2 separate regions of the Homo sapiens genome follow, and region 2 is linked to region 1. Evidence: fine-mapped expression QTL. Tissue or cell type: prostate. Region 1 holds a variant in brackets; the other region holds the start of a gene. All regions are shown on one strand. Distances are from middle to middle.

Region 1 (5,239 bases):
TTGGTTATTATCTGTCTTCCCATCCCTAACTAGAAATAAGCTCCATGAGAGCAATAACTTGATGATTTTTGTTCACTATCATATCCCCAGGCCCTAGAACAGTACCTGGTACATAGAAGATGCTCAGTAAATATTGTCTGAATGAACAAATGAGTGAGGGAATCACTGGAATTAATGAAAGATATTTAGAAAGTAAGGAGCGATCCTTGCTTCTAGCAGTGCATCATGCACTTCCCGGGTGGGTGGCTCTATACCAGATTATCTGAAAATTACAGTCATAGAAGAGACACGGACACGCCTTTGTAGAGTTTGTTGCTCAGGGCAACTGTTCTCAACACATTTTTGTGACACTTCAAGATGTCTTCAATGTGCAGGGGGGAATTCTTAACTTTTTACCTCAAATTACTTTTAATTACCTTTAATTTATTGTCAGTAAATTTATGTTATGCTGCATCTTGGCAGCAGGGAGGAAGTATCAAGATGGAAAACAAGGGCTTGAGCTGGGAGTTGAGATGTTGGCAGGGTACACAGCAATGAGAACTTTGGGTGTCACTGGATCCTGCAGCAGTGTTAATAGCTGGGAATATTGACATCTGATGGCCTTACAGCCTCAGCTAATGGAAGCCAACTGTATGTGAGGGGCACCTTCCCAACAATTCAGATTTGAACACAATTTGAGAAACCTGCAATTGGCTTGGTTTGGAGACATCGTGGTGAAGTGGGAAAGTGCTGGGCAGGGATCTAGAGTCCAGAATTCAAGTCCAGCTCTTTTAGGGATTCACTGTGGGACTTTAAGCAAGTTACAGAATCTTCCTAGATCAGGTTCCTCATCTACAGAATGATGAAAATTTACTGTGTCCTCTATGACGCTACAATTCTAGCAATAATTGCTGTCACATGTCACATGACCCATTGTCTTAGAAATTGGGACAGGAGTATCACAGATACCAAAAAAGCATACCTACTAAAATTCTTAAACACATATTGTTGGGGAGAGGGCTTCAGTTTGAGCCTCATTCATCTTGGTTGTTAGAAAAGACAACTATAGAGAGGTATCCTCTAGGTTAAAAAGGTTTAGAATGATTAGGAAGGGATATACAAAGAAAATAGGTTTTCAGGGTTTTGTTTTTTTTTTTCTTTGAGACGGAGTCTCGCTCTGTTGCCAGGCTGGAGTACAGTGGTGCAATCTTGGCTCACTGCAATCTCCGCCTCCTGGGATCAAGTGATTCTCCTGCCTCAGCCTCCTGAGTAGCTGGGATTACAGGCACCCACGACCATACCCAGCTTATTTTTGTATTTTTAGTAGAGATGGGGTTTCACCATGTTGGCCAGGATGGTCTTGATCTCTTGACCTTGTAATCTGCCTGCCTCAGCCTCCCAAAGTGCTGGGATTACAGGCGTGAGTCACTGTGCCCAGCTGGTTTTCAAATTTTATATTTATTTATTTATTTATTTTTTGAGACAGAGTTTTACTCTTGTTGCCCAGGCTGCAGTGCAATGGCGTGATCTTGGCTCACTGCAAACTTTGCCCCCCGGGTTCAAGTGATTCTCCTGACTCAGCCTCCCGAGTGGTTGGGATTACAGGCATGCGCCACCACGCCCGGCTAATTTTGTATTTTTAGTAGAGACGGGGTATCTCCATGTTGGCCAGGATGGTCTCAACTCCCAACCTCAAGTGATCCGCCCACTTCGGCCTCCCAAAGTGCTGGGATTACAGGCGTGAGCCACTGCACCCTGCCTCAAATTTTAAATCATATCATTTGAACTCTCATGGAGGGAGAGTATAAGAGGAGAGGACCCAGCATTTATTTCTGGGGCAATCATGGTTGAAACCTGGGAAAAGAGAAACCGGCTCAGAAAAGTTGATATGACAAAGACTCCAAGGAGCCAAAGGACTCAGACAGGCAGGGCCAGACAACAGACAGGAGGAGCCAACCAGAATGAGCCTATGCTAAACAGAAGAGGATTTGCTGTTGTGGCTGAAGACTGAGGGCAAGTGTGAGAAGGCTCATACAGGACTGAAGAAAAGGCATCAGCTCTGTTTGTGTGGTGCTTCCCTTCTTCTCTCTTAAAAAATTTGCTGCACTCACTCTCCCCTGTCACTCTCACTCTTACTGGTCTCAGCTCCTACCTTATCCCTTCTACTCACCCACTGCTGTCCGTAGCTGTCCTCCAGGTCATTCAAGTATTTATCTTCCCAGTGGAGGCGGATGCCCAGCAGATCAACAGGCCTAAAACCATTCTCAGCCAGGATTACAAAGTAGGTAAAGAATCCAGCCAGAGCCTGGATCATCCCTGTGAATGACAGAGTTGCAGGACAGGGGAGCCTGGTTCAGAGAAGGGCCCCAAAAGGTAGGCCAGGGGAGGGCTGGGGGCTGGGACTTGCTTCTGGCTGGGCTGGTGTGTGTCTGAAGAGTAATGCGGAAGAATCTTGCCATCAGCTGCCTAAGCCTGTTATCTCTCATCTCTGTGGGACTTTCCTTCAAGCCCTGACATTTGTTTCTAAACTCTGACCCAGAGTCAGCTTTGAATCACATGGTCTTAAAACTAAAAAGGACTTTAGAGGCCACTGATTCCCTCTCCCAATTTTTTCTTTTGAGACAGGATCTTACTCTGTTCATCACTCACCCTATTTTCTGAAATACCATTGCACCTGGAAAATCAAGAACAAAGACTTCTAATGACTCTCAAATGTCTGTCAAGGCTGACCCCAACACAAATGATATCTCTGTCTACAGTCTTATTTTTCACTACTTTATAAAGACTAAGGGCTCTACCAACCTGGTTTATTCAGTCTTCTTTAACTGTGCCATCTGAAATTCCCCACTCCTTTGGTCTCCCACACCTGACCATACACTTACTAGTCTAAGCCCCACTCTCCCACACCAAGTTTAAGTCCTATTTCCTGCATAAGGCCTCTCTGGCTATCCTCATAATGGTGAGCCTGCTTGCTTTGTAATCCTGTAGTATGTTCTGTCTATACTCATTACTTGGCACTTGGAGATGCTATCATTTTATGTATGTTTGTTCCTTTTGTACTGGACTCTAAGTCAAGGACAGATCAGAGATGAGTGGTTCTTTGTGTTTTCAGGGCCTAGCACAGTTTGTT[G/C]CTGAGAAAATATCTCCCTGACTTCCAAACTGAGATGGCTCACGTTGCCAGGCAGGGGAAACCACTCCCTGCTCCCTCCACCCCTCATTCCTCTGGGCGCACCAATCTGTCCATAGGCCATGCCAATGAGACGGTGGTTCACCAGATTATCCGTCTTTGGGTTCCTTGGAAGCCTCTTCATGATGTCGCTTTCAGCTGACTCATAAGCCAAGGAGATGGCAGGGACCTGGAGGATGGAGGGTGGGGATGACAGGGGTCACAAAGTTCAGAAGGAAACCCAGCAGTAATTCAAGCTCTACCATTCTGTCTTGACGCAGCCTCAATCCATCTTGCAGGAGGTGCGAGAGCTGGATCATAAGTGGGTTGTCATGAGTTTTAGTAAGATAGCTCCAGGCAGAAAGCAGGGAGCTTAGGAGGCAGAATTCTGGGAATCTCTTGCTCACCAGCTTGGCCCTTACCATGTCAGTGCCGAGATCAATGCAGAGGATGGTTATGGTTCCCAGAGGCAGGGGTATACCGAGGATGATGAACATCAGGAAGGGCGTGATCTCGGGGATGTTGCTGGTCAGGGTGTACATGATGGATTTCTTCAGGTTGTCAAAGATCAGGCGGCCTGGGGAGGAAGGTCAACCTCCTGTGAGAAGCCCTGGGAGAACACGCCTCCCTCAAACCAGCTCCGGGACAGACAGGCCACCTCAAAGAAGTGTCACAGTCCAGGAAAGGGTCTGGAGGTCCTAGACCTCCAGGGTCCCAGTATTGTTTCTAAATTGTGTGCCTTTTAATCAGAGCCATGCCGTCTGTGTACTGTTTGTTCTTAGATTCACCCTAGCTAACGTTATCTGATCTCTGAAAATTAGCAGGGTTGGGCCTGGTTAATCCTGCGATGTTTGAGAATGTCAGTATAAAAGCCTTTACAAGATTAAGGCTGGAATGGAAACAGCCAGGGCTTGGGACAGGCTTGTGTTCAAATCCCATCTTCTGCCATAGCTAGCTGTGACCTTGGGCACCCTCACCTCCGTGAGCTTCATTCCTCCTGCCTTGCAAGATTGCTGCATCCGTCTCTGACTGCCTTTTCAAAGATCGAATCCCTCTCTGCACTCTCTGCTTGGTCTGTCCCATGGCACTTATCTTCTTTTAACATACTATATAATTTAATTATTTTATTGTTTGTCATCCCCACTAGAAATTAAGTTACACGAGGGCAGGGATTTGTGTCTTTGTTCTCCCTACTGTTGTATCCCCAGCATCAAGCATAGTGCCTCCCACATAGTCAGTGTTCAAACGAACTTATTGAATTGAGTGGATATAAAATACCAAGCAAAGTGTCAGGATTATACAAGGTTTCAATGAAATGGTAATCATGATTATGATGTGGATTGCCATATGTTTTAGTAAGATAGCTCCAGGCAGAAAGCAGGGAACCTGGAATGCAGAATTCTGGATCTCTCCTGTTCGCAGGAGGGCATTCTCTTCACAGTTCTCTGGGGAAGAGGGTGTGTAATTGGGCTCATGCAGTCAATTCACGGGTCAAGCTCCAGCTGATCCTGATGTGTCACCATTATTTAGGCAACAGGTTCCTAGGGGACCCTCCTAAAGATTGCAGCGCATGGAATAGTCCCAGGGGTGTGGCTACATCTTGGAACTGGCTGTGGGCCTACTTGAAGTCCAGTGAGAGGACAATGACGATATTATGTATACCAGAGTCTCAGTCTCCCTGATAGGAAAACAAAATGAATAAAAGGGACTTTTCTCCGATCTCATCAAAAGGGGTTGCAGATAGTGATGGTCTATGTACCAGCTGATCTAATTTGCAAAATTTTGTCTTACAGTGATTTTCTTCTGAGCCCGTACAGGCTCATGGAGGTTGGATGATGGGAAAACGGAAAGAGGGGATGTACACCAACCCCCACCTGAGTCCAGGGTTGAAGTCTCCACCATGGGCACCCTGCCTCCTCACCCTCCTCCACCCCCGTGACGATGGAGGCAAAGTTGTCATCCAGCAGGATCATGTCGGCTGCCTGCTTAGAGACGTCAGAGCCAGAGATGCCCATGGCAATGCCAATGTCAGCCTTCTTCAGCGCAGGGGAGTCGTTCACCCCGTCACCTGTCACGGCCACAACGGCTCCCTGA
Region 2 (5,216 bases), 25 kb after region 1:
ACTATAGTTAATAATTTATTATGGATATCAAAATAATTAGAGGAGTGGATTTGGAATGTTCCCATGCAAAGAAATGATAAATGTTTGAGGTTATGGGTATCCTAAATACCCTGATTTGATCATTACACATTGTATGCTTATATCAGAATAATACATGTATACCATAAATATGTACATCTACATATCCATTTTTTTTTTTGAGACAGAGTCTTGCTCTGTCACCTAGGCTGGAGTGCAGTGGCATGATCTCGGCTTACTGCAACCTCCATCTCCCAGGTTCAAGTGATTCTCCTGCATTCAAGTGATTCTCCTGCCTCAGCCTCCCAAGTAGCTGAGATTGCAGATGTGTGCCACTATGCCAGGATAATTTTTGTATTTTTAATACAGATGGGGTTTCACCATGTTGGCCAGGCTGGTCTCCAACTACTGACCTCAAGTGATCTGCCTGCCTTGGATTACAGGTGTGAGCCACGGCACCTGGCCCATAAATTTTTAAAAAACATAAATAGAAAAGAATACTAACAAAAAACATGAATGCATAGATTCTCATTCCACTCTTGTGCACAAGCTTATGTGCTTTTTCCTGTTAATGAAAATGATAGTAGAACCTGCCAATCACCACCAGCCACTCCCCAACCTCTGCCTGAAACACCCGAGGGGCCCCAAAACCCTTTCAGGGGGTCCACAAGGTCAATTTTCATAGTAATACTAAATCATTGTTTGCCTTTTTTTACTCTCATTTTCTTAAGAGTATATAGTGGAATTTTCTGAAGGCCAACTGGCATAACATCACAACAGATTTTATCCAGAAAATATTTGAGAATCCAGCTATCTTCTATTAAAAAGCAAGACATTGAAGAGGTTTGCAAAAATGTAAGATGCTGCTAATTTTTTTGTTTTGAAAAATACAGTTATTTGTCAAAACATATATGAATATATGATAACTTTATTTTTGTTATTTTTAAATGAATTGAGAAATACATTTTAAAACTCTCAATTTTAATTTCTAATATGGTAAATATAGACAGACTTAAGCCACATAAGCACAAGTTCTTTGCGGTCCTAGATAAATTCTAAGAGTGTAAAGGAGACCTAAGGACAAGACGTTTGACCAGCACTGCCCTAAAGCATTCTTATTCTCTTATCTAGTCCCACACTCTCTTTGAGGGTAGTTACCATTTGCAGCTTTTTCCAGGTAGTGTCCATGGAACGTGGCCAGGCAGAGGGTGAGGGGTGGGAACGTTGGACTTGAAGTTAGGGGGCTGGATTCCTAGTTCAGCTTTTGTCCTGGCAGCCTCACAGTCAGAGTTGGAGACTCTCTGCCTCCTCAGGGAGCTTCTTACTCACCTTTGTCAGGTCCACGGAGTACTTGGTGCTCAGCTCTTCCAAGGTTAATTTGTGATCATCCTGAGGGGACAGTAGAGGCATTGAGGGACAGGGGGTGGCCCAGGTCATTTCCAGGGAGAGGGGGAGAAACAGACTGGAGAATGTTAGTCCAAACTGAGACTGCTCCATTTTGTAAGCTCCCTGCAATTCTTTTTTTGAGATGGAGTCACTCTGTTGCCCAGGCTGGTGTACAGTGGTGCGATTTCGACTCACTGCAACCTCTGCCTCCCAACAGGTGTTTCTCCTGCCTCAGCCTCCCAAGCAGCTGGGATTACAGGGGCCCATCACCAGGACCAGCTAATTTTTGTATTTTTAGAGGCGGGGTTTCACCATGTTGGCCAGGCTTGTCTCAAACTCCTGACCTCAGGTGATCTGCCTGCCTCAGCCTCCCAAAGTGCTGGGATTACAGGTGTGAGCCACCACGCCCGGCCTAGCTCCCCACTATTTTACAGGCCTTGGTCAAAGTGAAACATTTCACGGGGGTTCGGGCCAGAGAAACAGCCTGCCTAACCACCTGACCACAGGGCAGACGAAGGCCCAATTAAAGACAAAGACCCCACTAAAGAAACATCCCTATCACATCCTGCTGGGCAAAGGTCCAGGGAATACCATGATTATATTCTGTGGAAACAAGGGCCAAAAATCACCTCATCATGAGAACATCTTATCGATATCCTGCCAGGCAGCAGGCCATACAGCCCAGACTCCTCCCATCCATCCCTATAAGTACCCAGCCTGTAAGTGGCAGTGGACTGTGGAATTAAGCTGATCCCCCACTTCCACAGGTGTCTGCAATATACCTGTGCTTGCTGTTGAGCTGCCCTGTCTCTCTGTGTGTATCTTTTTTTTTTTTTTTAACCCTCTCCTTCCCTCCAAAGCCTAACAGAGAAGAGATGTGGCTCTGGCCTGTGTGTTTCATTCTCAAGGTAAGATGTTAAAGATAGGTGGAGGAGTGTTTTCAGAGGGCAGCTGTCAGCGCCCACTTTGGGTGGCCTCACCATGACCACTTCCTTCTTCAGTTCCTCCATATTGCGCTTCTGTTTTTCCCTCTTCACCATTTTTTTCTTGATAAGCCCTTTTTTAGGTCTTCGTCTTGGACTCTGGTCATGGGGAGCCACTGTCCCTTTCTTCCCCCAAAGCCCCATAGCTATCCCCAGAAAGAGCTGCCCGAGCTCAACTGTGGGAAGAAAGCTGAGAGAGTGAGGCAAGGGGAAGGGAAGAGGGCGCGCGGGCAAGGGGGCCACGAGAAGAGAGTGGTGGGGAGAGAATGAGGGAGCAGAAAGAAAGAGGCAGGGAGGGAGGTGTTGGGTGGTGAAGGTGAGAGAGAGGAAGGGAAGTGAGAGAGGAGAGACTGAGCGGTCCTCCAGCCGTCCGCTGGGAAGAGGAAGAGTCAGGAGTGAGGGAAGAGGGAGGAGAGAAGCCTAGGGTGGAAGGATAAAAAGGTAGAGGTGAGGGAATGCAGTGAGGGCAGGAAACAAGAGGTGAAGCGTAACCAGGTGCCTCAGTGATGAAGATGCCGCAAGGCCCACAGGAAGGTGGGAAATGCAGTGAGAGTGAGGAGGCGGAGTGAGCTTCAAGGATCTGGGAACCCCCCAGTCCCAGGCCCTGTGGTTGCTGGGGCAATGACCCAGGTCTGGCATCACAAAGGCCTCCTGAAAGTTCTAACCAAGAATCCAGAAGTCTTGCCTTGGCGATGGTCCAGGTCTGCTGTCGCAAAGGCCTCATGAAGGTTTTAACCAAGAACCTAGAAGTCTCAGTCTTTGGGTTTGAGGACGATTGGAGCAGGCCCTGCTACAGAAAGAGTTTCAGTCTGAGGGCAGAACTAGAACAAAGTTCTTGTGTGGTCCTGCAGACTTTGGAGGCTTAGAGGTATGCCAAATAGATGACTCAAAAATAAAGCGGGTATTCGGCCGGGCGCGGTGGCTCATGCCTGTAATCCCAGCACTTTGGGAGGCTGAGATCGAGACCTTCGTGGCCAGTATGGTGAAACCCCATCTCTACTAAAAATACAAAATTTAGCCAGGTGTGGTGGTGGGCACCTGTAATCCCAGCTGCTCGGGAGGCTGAGGCAGGAGAAACATCTGAATCCAGAAGGCAGAGGTTGCAGTGAATTGAGATTGCATCACTGCACTCCAGCCTCGGTGACAGAGTGACTCCATCTCAGACAAACAAACAAACAAACAAACAAACAAACAAACAAACAAAAAACCATAGCAGGGAGCTTACAAAATGGTGCAGTTGCAGTTTGGACTAATATTCTCCCGTCTGTTTTTGAGACTCCATCTCAAAAAAAAAAAAAAAGCAGGTACTCTGTGTGTGTTTTTTAGCAAGGCACACTTTTCCACTAACATTGGGTTTGATCTTTTAATTTTAGGAGATCAGCTAGCAGAATAGATCAGATCTTGGGCTCTGGAACCAGTCCTGGATTTCAATCCCAACTCCTCCACTTGTCAGCTGTGTGGCTTTGAGCAAGTTACCTAACCTCTGTACCTCTCTTTTCTTATTTTTAAAAGAGGATACCTTCTACCTTAAGTGAGGTGCTCTACAAAAAGCACTATGTGACATATATAGTATGTGCTCAATAGGTAGCTTGAATTCAGTAGTAGTTTTATTTGTGGATTAATATGCAGCTCTTCTCAGTGAGGGTAAAAATATGCTTTTCCATGTGATAGCGTTGCATTTTCTCATTTTAAAATGATGTACTTACCTCTTCCATTGACCTTCTCTGGTGTCTCAGTAAGTGCTTTGACTATATTAACTGTATATATGTTTTGCATGTCCATAGGATTCTACCTCCTTCCAAGAATAATCTGAAGCATCTATACTTTTCTGTCAACCATTATATATATTTTTCAATTATGCACGTCACATAGATTTTCCCATTCTGTTGTTTGATATTTGTTTATTTACTTTTTGAGACAGGATCTCACTTTGTTGCCCAGGCTGGAGTGTAATGGTGCGATTATGGCTTACTCCAGCCTCAACCTCCCAGGTCCAAGTGATCCTCCCACCTCAGCCTCCCAAGTAGCTGGGACCACAGGCATGTGCCACCATGCCCGGCTAATTTTTTTTATTTTATTTTAGTAAAGACGGGGTGCCCCTGTGTTGCCCAGGCTGGTCTCAAACTCCTGGGCTCAAGCAATCCTTGGCCTTGGCCTCCTAAAATGTTGGGATTACATAAGTGAGACACCAAGCCTGGCCTGATATTTATTTAATTGCATTTTGGTTGGGCATGCTTTTTAAAAATATGACTGTATCTGGAAACATTCATCTTGGTGCTGATGCAATCCTCCTTGAATATTCAGAAATAGAAATGCTCCCTTCCCAGCTGGGATAAATGATCGTCTATTTCTTTAACAGATTGGATTTTTCTTCTCTATTAAAAATGTTTAAGATAAAAATTGAAAGCCCCACCTTCCCTCCCTCCAAACTCAGATTCTCCCCACTGCTGAAGTTACTGCTGGTAACAATGTGCTGCATGTCCTTCCAGTCTTTTTTCTATGTTTATACAAATAGATATCTAAAAGGAGGTATTTTTCAACTTTTAAACAATCATTCAACTCTCTACCAACCTGTCATGTACATAAAGCTTCTTTTTTTCAGTGCTGTGAGGCTTCCATATTCTGTATTGACCATGCTCTATTCAATCATTCCCATTACTGATGGATTTATGAGATATTTTCCATTTTTTTAACCATTAATAAAATTGCTAGAGTGTCATTCTTGCACATAGATATCATCAGGCCCTTGAGCTTCTATTTCTGTAGAATCAGTTCCTGTTGCTGAATCATAGAGTACACTCATTAACAATCTTAAAAGATTCTGCCAAT

The links. PIP is the estimated chance that this variant, and not a neighbour inherited with it, causes the effect.
Region 2: ATP1A4 starts here. The variant in region 1 is the best candidate, but not a certain one, in a credible set for the expression of ATP1A4 in prostate (GTEx, PIP 0.80).

Annotation. Positions count from the first base shown.
Region 1 is chr1:160,174,575-160,179,813 of GRCh38, reverse strand. It overlaps ATP1A4 (ATPase Na+/K+ transporting subunit alpha 4), which reads right to left. Exons shown (of 22, transcript NM_144699.4): 15 at 5,067-5,235; 16 at 3,568-3,722; 17 at 3,212-3,335; 18 at 2,150-2,295. Among named protein-coding and RNA genes, the nearest start is that of CASQ1, 13 kb to the left of the region's middle. RefSeq lists an enhancer at 4,728-5,239. The variant G/C (reference allele first, on the strand shown) is at 3,110.
Region 2 is chr1:160,149,356-160,154,571 of GRCh38, reverse strand. ATP1A4 (ATPase Na+/K+ transporting subunit alpha 4) reads right to left here and starts at 2,969. Exons shown (of 22, transcript NM_144699.4): 1 at 2,385-2,969; 2 at 1,348-1,407. The coding sequence starts at 2,531.